Linked DNA regions of Homo sapiens. The protein of the gene in region 3 interacts with the protein of the main gene of each other region in a pairwise test. Each region holds a gene or a part of one and is shown on either strand. Other genes may lie near its edges. The genes, in order: STK3, POU2F1 and SNIP1.

Evidence for each region.
Region 1: the proteins of SNIP1 (region 3) and STK3 interact in binary tests that used the Homo sapiens proteins (3 or more experiments, as listed by UniProt).
Region 2: the proteins of SNIP1 (region 3) and POU2F1 interact in binary tests that used the Homo sapiens proteins (3 or more experiments, as listed by UniProt).

Annotation. Positions count from the first base shown.
Region 1 is NC_000008.11:98,707,131-98,710,783, forward strand, and holds part of STK3 (serine/threonine-protein kinase 3), read right to left. Parts: intron 182-3,653; coding exon 17-181; intron 1-16. UniProt on the Homo sapiens protein: Stress-activated, pro-apoptotic kinase which, following caspase-cleavage, enters the nucleus and induces chromatin condensation followed by internucleosomal DNA fragmentation.
Region 2 is NC_000001.11:167,370,785-167,374,437, forward strand, and holds part of POU2F1 (POU domain, class 2, transcription factor 1), read left to right. Parts: intron 1-1,132; coding exon 1,133-1,252; intron 1,253-3,323; coding exon 3,324-3,512; intron 3,513-3,653. UniProt on the Homo sapiens protein: Transcription factor that binds to the octamer motif (5'-ATTTGCAT-3') and activates the promoters of the genes for some small nuclear RNAs (snRNA) and of genes such as those for histone H2B and immunoglobulins.
Region 3 is NC_000001.11:37,547,763-37,551,415, forward strand, and holds part of SNIP1 (smad nuclear-interacting protein 1), read right to left. Parts: intron 1-3,653. UniProt on the Homo sapiens protein: Required for pre-mRNA splicing as component of the spliceosome. As a component of the minor spliceosome, involved in the splicing of U12-type introns in pre-mRNAs. Down-regulates NF-kappa-B signaling by competing with RELA for CREBBP/EP300 binding.

The DNA.
Region 1 (3,653 bases), on a different chromosome or scaffold from region 3:
ATTAAAGTTAACTTACTGTTAACTGACCAGCCACTCCAAAATCTGCCAATTTTGCATGTCCTTCTGTATTGAGGAGAATATTTCCAGCTTTTATATCTCTGTGTATTTTTCTCATAAAGTGCAAATATTCTAGTCCTTTCAATGTAGATTTAAGAATGGTTGCAATTTCATCTTCTATTAACTGGAAAGAAATATTTTTAAAACCATAATTAAAATGCCACGTTAGATAAAATCTTACGAAAGAGCACTAGTAACAAGTATGTCTTTCCGTGTGTGTGTGTGTGTTTTTTTTTAAGAGACCCCACTCTGTTGCCCAGGCTACAGTGCAGTGGTGTGATGATAGCTCACTGCAGCCTAAAATTCCTGGGCTCAAGGCATGCTCCCACCTCAGCTTCCCGAGTAGCTAGAACTACAGGCACATGCCAACCCAATAGGCTAACTTATTTTTATTTTTGTAGAGATGGGGATCTCGCTATGTTGCCCGGGCTGGTCTTGAACTCTTTGCTTCAAACAATTCTCCTTCCTCAGCTTCCCAAAGTGTTGGGATTATAGGTGTGAGCCACCATGCCTAGCCACAAGTACTTCTTTCTAATGACCGCTAAACCTCCAGGAAAATGCTAAAGGGGTAAATAATCGAGAACCTCTTCTTCCCACAATAAGCTTTCTTATTACACATTTTACTAATGAAAGGATGATCAAATTTCTCTCTTTAAGATTATCAGTATCAGCAGGGCGTGGTGGCTCACACCTGTAATCCCAGCACTTTGGGAGGCTGAGGCGAGCAGATCACTTGAGGTCAGGAGTTCAAAACCAGCCTGGCCCACATGGTGAAACCTCGTCTCTACTAAAAATACAAAAATTAGCCAGGCGTGATGGCGTGCACTTGTAATCCCAGCTACTCAGGAGGCTGAGGCAGGAGAGTCACTTGAACCTGGGAGGCAGAGGTTGCAGTGAGCTGAGATCACATCACTGCATGCCAGCCTGGGCGACACAGCGAGACTCCATCTCAAAAAAAAAAAAAAATTATCAGTATCATTCCTAAAGCAAACAACATATCTCAAGAATCAGCCTGATATAAGGAATCATAATAGTGATTTCCCACATCTTCTAATACTGGGAGGGCACTATCACAGCTAATATCTGTTCTGAAAAAGTAAATTCAGATACTTCCCCTGAGATATTTCAGATTCTTGATGAAAATGAAACCAACAGCTTTACATAAAGGAAAGTAAATGAGGGAGGGAGGCTTGCAATGAATCTTCTGCGAGAAGCTCCTACACCAATGCCACTCCTAACCCTTCCAAGTTCTGGACTTCTGACCTAATATTGAGAACTCAGAAGAAAAAACGTCAGAGAAAGATTAGGAAAATGGAAACACAAGCAAAGACTATCAGAGGAGGGAAAAAGGGGAGAGTAGAGAAGGCCGAGGAAGAGACGGATGGGAAAGAAAGAAAATCTTCTTAACAGTTGTAGCAGTAGAGCCACTGCTATCTGTACCAGGCAATGTGCTAAGAGTTATGCATGCATTCTCTCATTTATTCTTAAAACAACCTTGTAAGGTAGTGTGATATTATGAAATCACAGGAAATATTTGGTCTTTGTAGGTTCTTGGCACAAAATCTCCTAAGACCCTGTGAATTGACTGAGTGAGTGAGAAGTTGAATCAAGATATTTTATCTTTGTTTTCTCACCCTCTCACAAGAGTGAGAGGGGCTGTCTTTTGTCATTCATAATAAGCTCCTTTCAACCATACCAGAATTTATACTGATCAGGTGACTCTTGGTGGGAGCCTAGATAGCTTCAGGATGGGAGCTGGTTGCCGAAAAAACCAACCAAGTGATTAGATGTTTGGAAATTTCTGCCTGACCCCTGACTTACGGGAGGGCTGCAAGGAGAGAGGGGGTAGAGATTTAGTTAAGCACAAATGTCCAAAGACTTAATCAATCATGCCTATGTAACAGAATCAACCATAAAAATTCTAAATGATTAGGGACTGCTCTCAAGCTTATATTCTATCTATAAGCAACGGGATAATTTGATAGAAAATAGGATAACACAGGAAAATGTCTGTGAAAATTGCTATGAGGACAACAATAGAGAGCTACTGATAGAGAACGACTGAGAAGCTACTTTAGATTGACATTCAAGAAGGCCCAAAAGACATTTTACTGAAGTCTAAATGATATAATGGGGCCAACCATGTGAATGGCTATCTGGGAACATACACTCCACAAAAAGGAAAAAAAAAGATTAAAATATCTTGATTCAACTTCTCAAATTTTCTAAAACACTGAAGAAAAGAGAACACTTCCACACTCATTTTAAGAGGCATTATTCTGATATCAAAGCCAGACAAAGTTACCACAAAACAACTAAGACCAATATCCCTTATGAACATTGATACAAAAATCCTCAACAAAATATAGCACACTCACTTCAACAGGATTGTAACAGGTTATACACTATGACCAACTGGAATGTATTCCTGGAATGCAAGGTTGATTCAACATACAAAATCGAACAATGCAATACACCACCTTAACAGAATGGAGAAGAAACCACATGATCATTTCAAATGAAAACAGAAAAAGCATTTGATTAAATTTAACTTCTTTTCATAAAACACACAACTAATATGAATAGAAGGAAACTATCTCACCATAGTAAAAGCCATATACAAAAAACCCAAAGTAAATGTCATACTCAAAGCAGTAAGACTGAAAGCTTTTCCACAAAGATCAGGAACAATGAAAGGATGCTATTAGGTTGGTGCAAAAGTAATCGCAGTTTTTGCCATTTTTTTTTTAAAGTAATGGCAAAAACCGAAATTACTTTTGCACCAGCCTAATACTTCTGTTACATATAGTACTGGAGGTTCTAGACAGAGCAATTAGGGAAGAAAAACAAATAAAGGCATCCAAACTGGAAAAAAAGAAGTAAAATTATCTCTGTTCACAGATGATATGATCATATATGTAGAAAATTCTAAAGATTCCACAAAAAAAACCTATTAGAACTAATAAATAGGGATGGAGACAAGACGGCTGAATAGGAACAGCTCCAGTCTAAAGCTCCCAGCGTGAGCATTGCAGAAGACACATGATTTCTGCATTTCCAACTGAGGTACCAGATTCATCTCACTGGGGAGTATCGGAAAGTGGGTGCAAGACAGTGGGTACAGTGCACTGAGCATGAGCTGAAGCAGGGCGGGGCATCACCTCACCTGGGAAGTGCAAGGGGTCAGGGAATTCCCTTTCCTAGTCAAAGAAAGGGGTGACAGATGGCACCTGGAAAATCAGGTCACTCCCACCCTAATACTGTGCTTTTCCAATGGTCTTAGCAAACGGCACACCAGGAGATTATATCCCGCGCCTGGCTTGGAGGGTCCTACACCCATGGAGCCTCGCTCACTGCTAGCACAACAGTGTGAGATCAAACTGCAATGCGGCAGCGAGGCTGGGGGAGGGGCGCCTGCCATTGCCCAGGCTTGAGTAGGTAAACAAAGCAGCCAGGAAGCTCAAACTGGGTGCAGCCCACCACAGCTCAAGGAGGCTGGCCTACCTCTGTAGACTCCACCTCTGGGGGCAGGGCATAGCCAAACAAGGCAGCAGAAACGTCTGCAGACTTAAATGTCCCTGTCTGACATCTTTGAA
Region 2 (3,653 bases), about 130 Mb from region 3:
AATTGTAATTAAACCTGTTTGTAGATGTTGGTGGATAGACAATCAAAATCTTAAAACTTAAATCTGGCCACTTTCCTTCTTTGAACCATATGGCACAACATGCAAAGTTCAAGTGTTAGACATTGCCCTCTTAATATTTCTATCAACCTGCTGGTTCCTTTCATTATAGTGTTTAGGTAACTAGCAGTCAAGAGGGAAAGACAGTATTATGGAAGATTGATTTCAGTGTTGCTAATGACTAAAGACCTTGGGTTGAGCATTTCATGAAACCCAGTTGAATATGGACCTAGTAACACGTAGGAACAAGGAGAGAAAAGAAAAAGAGATAATGTGACCTTACTTTCTGAGGGAGAGGAGGCGGAAAATTGCCTTGGTTGCCATGGTAAACTTTCATCCCTTAGAGAGATGTTGGCAAACAGGCTGTATCTCCAGTGCAGAATGTTTACAGTCCTGCACTGTAATTATCTCTCAATGACTGGCAGAATTAATCAGAGCATTTATGTTAATTAGCCTTGCTGCAGTCCCCAAAACAGGTGGTGAGAAATATGCAAATCTATGCAGAATTTTAATGCTTTGCATAACCAGTTTTAATTACCGTAAAATTTTCTCTTCGTGCCCCTCTCTCTTGACTGCAGCATTTTCTCTCTGAGCTTGTGTGTTAGTTGATGGGAGTTGCTAGATTTACCGTTCTGTAAAATATTAGGTGGAAAGTTCTGTGGATCAAGTGATCATTCTCTGAGATGGTATATGGAGAAGTTTCAGACTGACCACCAGGTGTATGTTAAAATATTGGTTTGGAAGGTCTAATGTAGAGGTGAATTGAAAATATATTCTTCCCTTTACCCCCTATTTCTAGAGTTGAGGAATTGGGGGCTATGAAAAAAATCTATAAATTTGTGGGGGATGACTTTATTTTTAAAAATTGTAATAGCAGCTTTGCTGGCATTAGAATTAACAAGTTTAAAAACTTGGTATGTGAAACTAGGAAAATACAAATAAAAGAAAGGAGGTAAACCAGAACTCATGACTGAATAAGCTCATGTTTTAAATGATTCCTAAAAGATGGGGTTTTAAGTACATTTCTTTTAATCAACCATTTGCAATCTTTTATTTCCTACCCACCCCACCTCAGTCTAAATCTAATGAAGAATCGGGGGATTCGCAGCAGCCAAGCCAGCCTTCCCAGCAGCCTTCAGTGCAGGCAGCCATTCCCCAGACCCAGCTTATGCTAGCTGGAGGACAGATAACTGGGGTAAGTGTTCACTGAGAGAATTATAACAAACTTTTTCTGTGTCAGAACTGCCATTGGCCAATAGCTGATTAGAATTGTTCACCATAGCTGGTAGTAACATGGCTATGCCTGGCACTATTGTGTCTTTAAGGAACTTCCTACACTGTAGGTAGTAAGTTGCTCTGAAAAAGGAATTATCTTTGTCGTAAGTTTTCAGGATATCTTTTATTAGAATTGTGGATGCTCTGGATAAATTAAAAACCTTATTAAACCCCTGTTTCAGGTGTTGCTTCATCATGCAATGGAGTAATTATCATATGGTTGAGATCATTACACTGAAAATGGCAGTTATCCATTTGGCATTAAGACATCACTGCAGGGTAGAAGTTAAAGAATGGATTAGTACCTGCAAAAGAAAAACATTTTTCTTTAAGTTACTGTGTAATGATCTAAAATAAAGCATGTGGCTTCATATCCTAGCTCTGCAACTTACCGTATGGCCTAATTACTTCATTTCCCTCTACCTGTTTTCCTTCTGTTAAATGGAGATACTAATAATACCTATCTCACATTACTGTTGTAAAGATTGGAGATAATACATGTAAAACTTATAGAACGGTGCTTGGCATGTAGCATTCAACAAATATTGTTTATTTTTGTACTTGATCTTAGCCAAAAGGCTGAGACGTTCTGTCATTTATTTTTTATGGTTAATAAATTGGCCTGTTTGGCTATATTAAGCTTTTAAGTTTTCAGCTGTCTTTTCTCTAAGGCACCATTCAAAATATTTTTCCAATGTTGAAAATTTGTGTATTAAATTATCTTTGTGGGGGTTGGTTTAGGGCAATGGTAAGGAATAGTTTTTATTCAATTCACATCACATTAACTCCCAAGAATTTCCTAGGGTTTTTTGTTTTCTTTCTTTCTTTCTTTCTTTTTTTCCCAGTTAAGTGTGTTTTGTCAGTGGACAACTGTTTTAAGAACTGTTGCAAAATTGTTCACAAAATCCCATGAGTAGAGATGTATGTATATATATATTATGTAAAAATTAAAAATATATCTATACTTTATATACACACATATCCCTTGAAGGGTATTGAGTTTTTGAATGGTTTGGTTTTGAGCCTTATGTTTCTAATGCACAAATTGTGTTTGATTCTTTTAGAGGAGGTTGTGGCACTAAGTGACTGTACATATACTTCAGAAAATTATGGTTCCATCTTGTTTGATCAATCAGAACTTGTCACCAAAAGAAAAGTAGAACACATTTACTACTTTAAGTGTGTTTGAAATAAGTTGCATTATGAAAACAACTTTAAATATGCTCTAAATACATTTCCTACTTTACTATTTGGGTCTTGTTTTTGGTGACTAGTGTCTACAATAGTAAGAGGGAGTTGGGATTCTAGGTTCCTTTGGCTGGAGCTTCTGTTAAACCTGGGCATTAGGGTTCATTTGCATGTAAAGAGAACGGCTATCACCACCTGTTTCATAGAGATAATGTGTTGGAAAGGAGATGTAAAGTTGCAGAGACTCAGTGCTTTCAATAACAGAAAAGATTGTGTTAGGGAGGGGCCTGTAGGGAGACTTGGAAAAGAAACAAATGGAGCTCATATTCTTTAGTCATATCTTTGGACTTAATGGAAATGATGGAATATGGCAGGGATTCATGCTAATGGGAAGCAGCTGGGCCTTATCAGTTCTTTCCTTGGTTATATCCAGCATCCTTGTTCCTCATTCATCTGACTAATCACTTGCTGTTTGGTTGTGTGTAAATGTATTTTCATATCTTGTCAGTGGTGATTCTTTTTTTTTTTTCTTGCTTACTAGTTAATTACTTTTTTGCCCAAACCCTAGGGCCCTGGACAAGCTTGAATGATTAAGTCCATAGTGGGGACCACCATTTTAATTTAAATGTTCTGCTAGTAATGGTAGTTTGATCACTGATGAACATTTTAGCTGTCTGCTAAGCAAGTGAAGTTGGGTAGCTGGGGACTGATATCATTTGAGTTACCTATTTTAAAGCAGTTGGCTTGCATTAGGAGACTTTCTCCTTCAACACTTTCCCATAATGTGTTCTGGTTTTGTTTAGCTTACTTTGACGCCTGCCCAGCAACAGTTACTACTCCAGCAGGCACAGGCACAGGCACAGCTGCTGGCTGCTGCAGTGCAGCAGCACTCCGCCAGCCAGCAGCACAGTGCTGCTGGAGCCACCATCTCCGCCTCTGCTGCCACGCCCATGACGCAGATCCCCCTGTCTCAGCCCATACAGATCGCACAGGTGAGTGAGGAACTCCAATAGCTGGGGCAGCAAGTGAGGAATAAAGTGGCAGGTTTTATTTAATGTTAGATTAACTTTTTGATTGTTAGTGTGGGGCCTTAACTGCCTGAGGAGCTCTAGATCAGTGAGGTAAGCGGTACC
Region 3 (3,653 bases):
ACAAAATGGTGGTTCAGAGGTTGAGAAAAGAATAAAGTAATCATTTGGTATCCTCAGGAGATTGGTTCCAGGATCCCCAGTGGATAAAAAAGATTATCTCAGGGCCAGGTGCAGTGACTCATGCCTGTAATCCCAGCACTTTGGGAGGCCAAGGCAGGTGGATTACGAGGTCAGGAGATGGAGACCATCCTGGCTAACATAGTGAAACCCTGTCTCTACTAAAAAAAAAATACAAAAAAATTAGCCAGGCATGGTGGCGGGCGCCTGTAGTCCCAGCTACTCAGGAGGCTGAGGCAGGAGAATGGCGTGAACCCCGGGAGGCGGAGCTTGCAGTAAGCCGAGATCGCACCACTGCACTCCAGCCTGGGCAACGCAGCGAGACTCCATATCAAAAAAAAAAAAAAAAAAAAAAAGATATCTTAGGATGCTCAAGTTCCTTATATAAAAATCTGTGAATATCCTTCTGTATACTTTAAATCATCACTAGGTTATTTATAATACCTAATACAACGTAAATGCTATATAAATAGTTGTTATACTGTTATTTGTCTTTTAAAATTTGCTTTTTTTTTTAAAACAGTCTTGCTCTGTCACCCAGGCTGGAGTGCAGTGGTGCGATCTTGGCTCACTGTAATCCCCGCCTCCCAGGTTCAAGTGATTCTCCTGCCTCAGCCTCCCAAGTAGCTGGGATTACACGCGCCCACCACCACACCCAGCTAATTTTTGTATTTTTAGTAGAGACGAAGTTTCACCATGTTGGCCAGGCTGGTCTCCTGACCTCAGGTGATCCACCCGCCTCGGCCTCCCAAAGTGCTGGGATTACAGGCATGAGCCACTGTGATCGGCCCAGACTCTAATCCCAGTTACTTGGGAGGCTGAGGCAGGAGAATCCCTTGAACCCAGGAGGCGGAGGCTGCAGTGAGCAGAGATTGCGCCACTCCAGCCTGGGCAACAGAACGAGACTCCGTCTCAAAAAAAAAAGAAAAAAAAAAAAAAAAGACGACTGAATTCTCATCCCTCAAAATTGAGAATAAGGCAAGAGTGTCTGCTCTCATTACTCTTTTATCTCTCCTTGCCTGACGCCATCCGTGTGATTTGCTCCTCCTTGCTTCCCACCATGATTGTGAGGCCTCTCCAGCCATGTGGAACTGTAAGTCCATTAAACCTCTTTCTTTTGTAAATCGCCGGGTCTCGGGTATGTCTTTATCAACAGCATGAAAACGGACTAATGCAAACAACAAAAGGAAATAAAATGCATTCAGATTGTAAAGGAAGAAATAAAACTGTCCCTATTTGTAGATATGATTGTCTACGTAGAAAATCCCAAGTAATCTTAAAAAAAAAAAAAAACTAGAATACATTAGTTCAGCAAGGATATAGGATGAAGATAAACACACAAAAATGAATTATATTTCTATATAGTAACAATGAACATTTGGACACTCATTTAAAATACCCTTTATAATCATTCCACAAAGAAATATGTATAGGATTTATAAGCTGAAAACTACAACCACTGATAAAAGATATCAAAGATGATCTAAATAAAAGGGGAGATACACAATGTTCATGGATTAGAAGATTTAACATAGTAAAAAGTCAATTATTGCCCCCAAACGCCAGTTTAACACAAATCCTATCAAAATCCTAGCAAGACTTTTCTTTCAGATCTCACTCTGTCGCCCAGGCTGGAGTGCAGTGGTATGATCACTGTTCACCGCAGCCTCAACCTCCTAGGCTCAAGTAATCCTCCCACTCAGGAGCTACTCAGCCTCCTGAGTAGCTGGGACCACAGGCATGCCACCACGCCCAACTAATTTTTGTATTTTTTGTACAGATGGGTTTCACCATGTTGCCCAGGCTGGTCTGGAGCTCCTGAGCTCAAGTGATCTGCCCACCTCAGCCTCCCAAAGTGTTGGGATTACAGGCATGAGTCGCTGTGACCGGCCCAGACTTTTTAAAAATAGAGGCAAGATTGTTCTAAAACTTACATGGATGAAAAAAGAAGCTGAATAGCTAAAGCAATTTTTATAAAGAAGACTACAATGGGAAAAATCAGTCCATACAATTTCAAGACTTATTATATAGCTATAGTAATCAAGACTGTGTGGTATTGGCAGAGTGACAGACACTGACAAATGAAACAGAACAGAGATTCCAGAAATAGACCCACACAAATATGCCCAACTGATTTTTGACAAAAGAGCAAAAGTAATTCATTGGAGGAAAGATGGTCTTTTCAACAAATGGTGTTGATGCAAGTGGACATTCATAGGCAAAAAAAACAAAAACAAAACAAAACAAAACAAAACAAAACAAAAACCCTGAAACCCTGAAAAGAAACTGAAAGCAGATCATGGACTTTTAAGAAAAAAAATTTAGGAGAAAATTTCAGAGATCTAGGGCTAGGCAAAAAGTTCTTAGCCATGACATCAAAAGCACAATCCATAAAAGGAAAAACAGATAAGCTGGACTTCATTGAAATTAAAAACTTTTGCTCTGAGATAAACCCTGTTAAGAAAATGAAGACAGCTACAGACTGGGAAAAAATATTTGTAAACCATTTATCCCCAAAGGGCTAGTATCCACAATATAAAAAGAATTCTTAAACACTAAACAGTAAAAAAGCAAATAATAGTATTAGAAAACAGGCAAAAGATAGCTGGGCATGGTGGCTCACTTTGCTGTAATCCCAGCACTTTGGGAGGCTGAGGCAGGTGAATCACCAGAGGTCAGGAGTTCAGGACCAGCCTGGTCAAAATGACGAAACCCCATCTCTACTAAAAATACAAAAATTAGCTGGGCATGGTGGCACGAGCCTGTAATCTCAGCTACTTGGGAGGCTGAGGCAGGAGAATCCCTTGAACCTGGGAGGCTGAGGTTGCAATGAGCTGAGATCGCGCCATTACACTCCAGCCTGGGCAACAAGAGTGAAACTCCGTCTCAAAAAATAAAAAATAAAAAATAAAAAATAAACAGGCAAAAGACATGAGACATTGCACCTGAGAAGATACATATAGATGGCAAATAAGCACATGAAAAGACGTCCAAGGCCAGGTGCAGTGGCTCACGCTTGTAATCCCAGCACTTCGGGAGGCCGAGGCAGGCAGATCACGAGGTCAGAAGTTTGAGACCAGCCTGGCCAACATAGTGAAACCCTTTCTGTACTAAAAATACAAAAAATTAGCTGGGCGTGGTGGTGGGCATCTGTAATCCCAGCTACTCAGGAGGCTGAGGCAGGAGAATCACTTGAACCTGGGAAGGGGAGATTGCAGTGAGCCAAGATCACGCCATTGCACTCCAGCCTGGGTGACACACACACACACACACACACACACACACACTGACACACAAAGAAAAGATGTCCAATATCATAAGCCATTAGGAAAATGCAAATTACGGGAAGCTGAGGCAGGAGAATCGTTTGAACTCAGAAGGCGGAGGTCGCAGTGAGCCGAGATCGTGCCACTGCACTCCAGCCTGGGTGACAGAGCCAGACTCTGTCTCAAAAAAAAAAAAAAAAGGAAAACGCAAATTAAAATCACAATGAAATACCACTACACGCCTATCAGAATGGCTAAAATAAAGTGATAACTTGAAATGCTGATAAAGATACAGGGAAACCGGATCATTCATACATTGCTGGTGGGAAT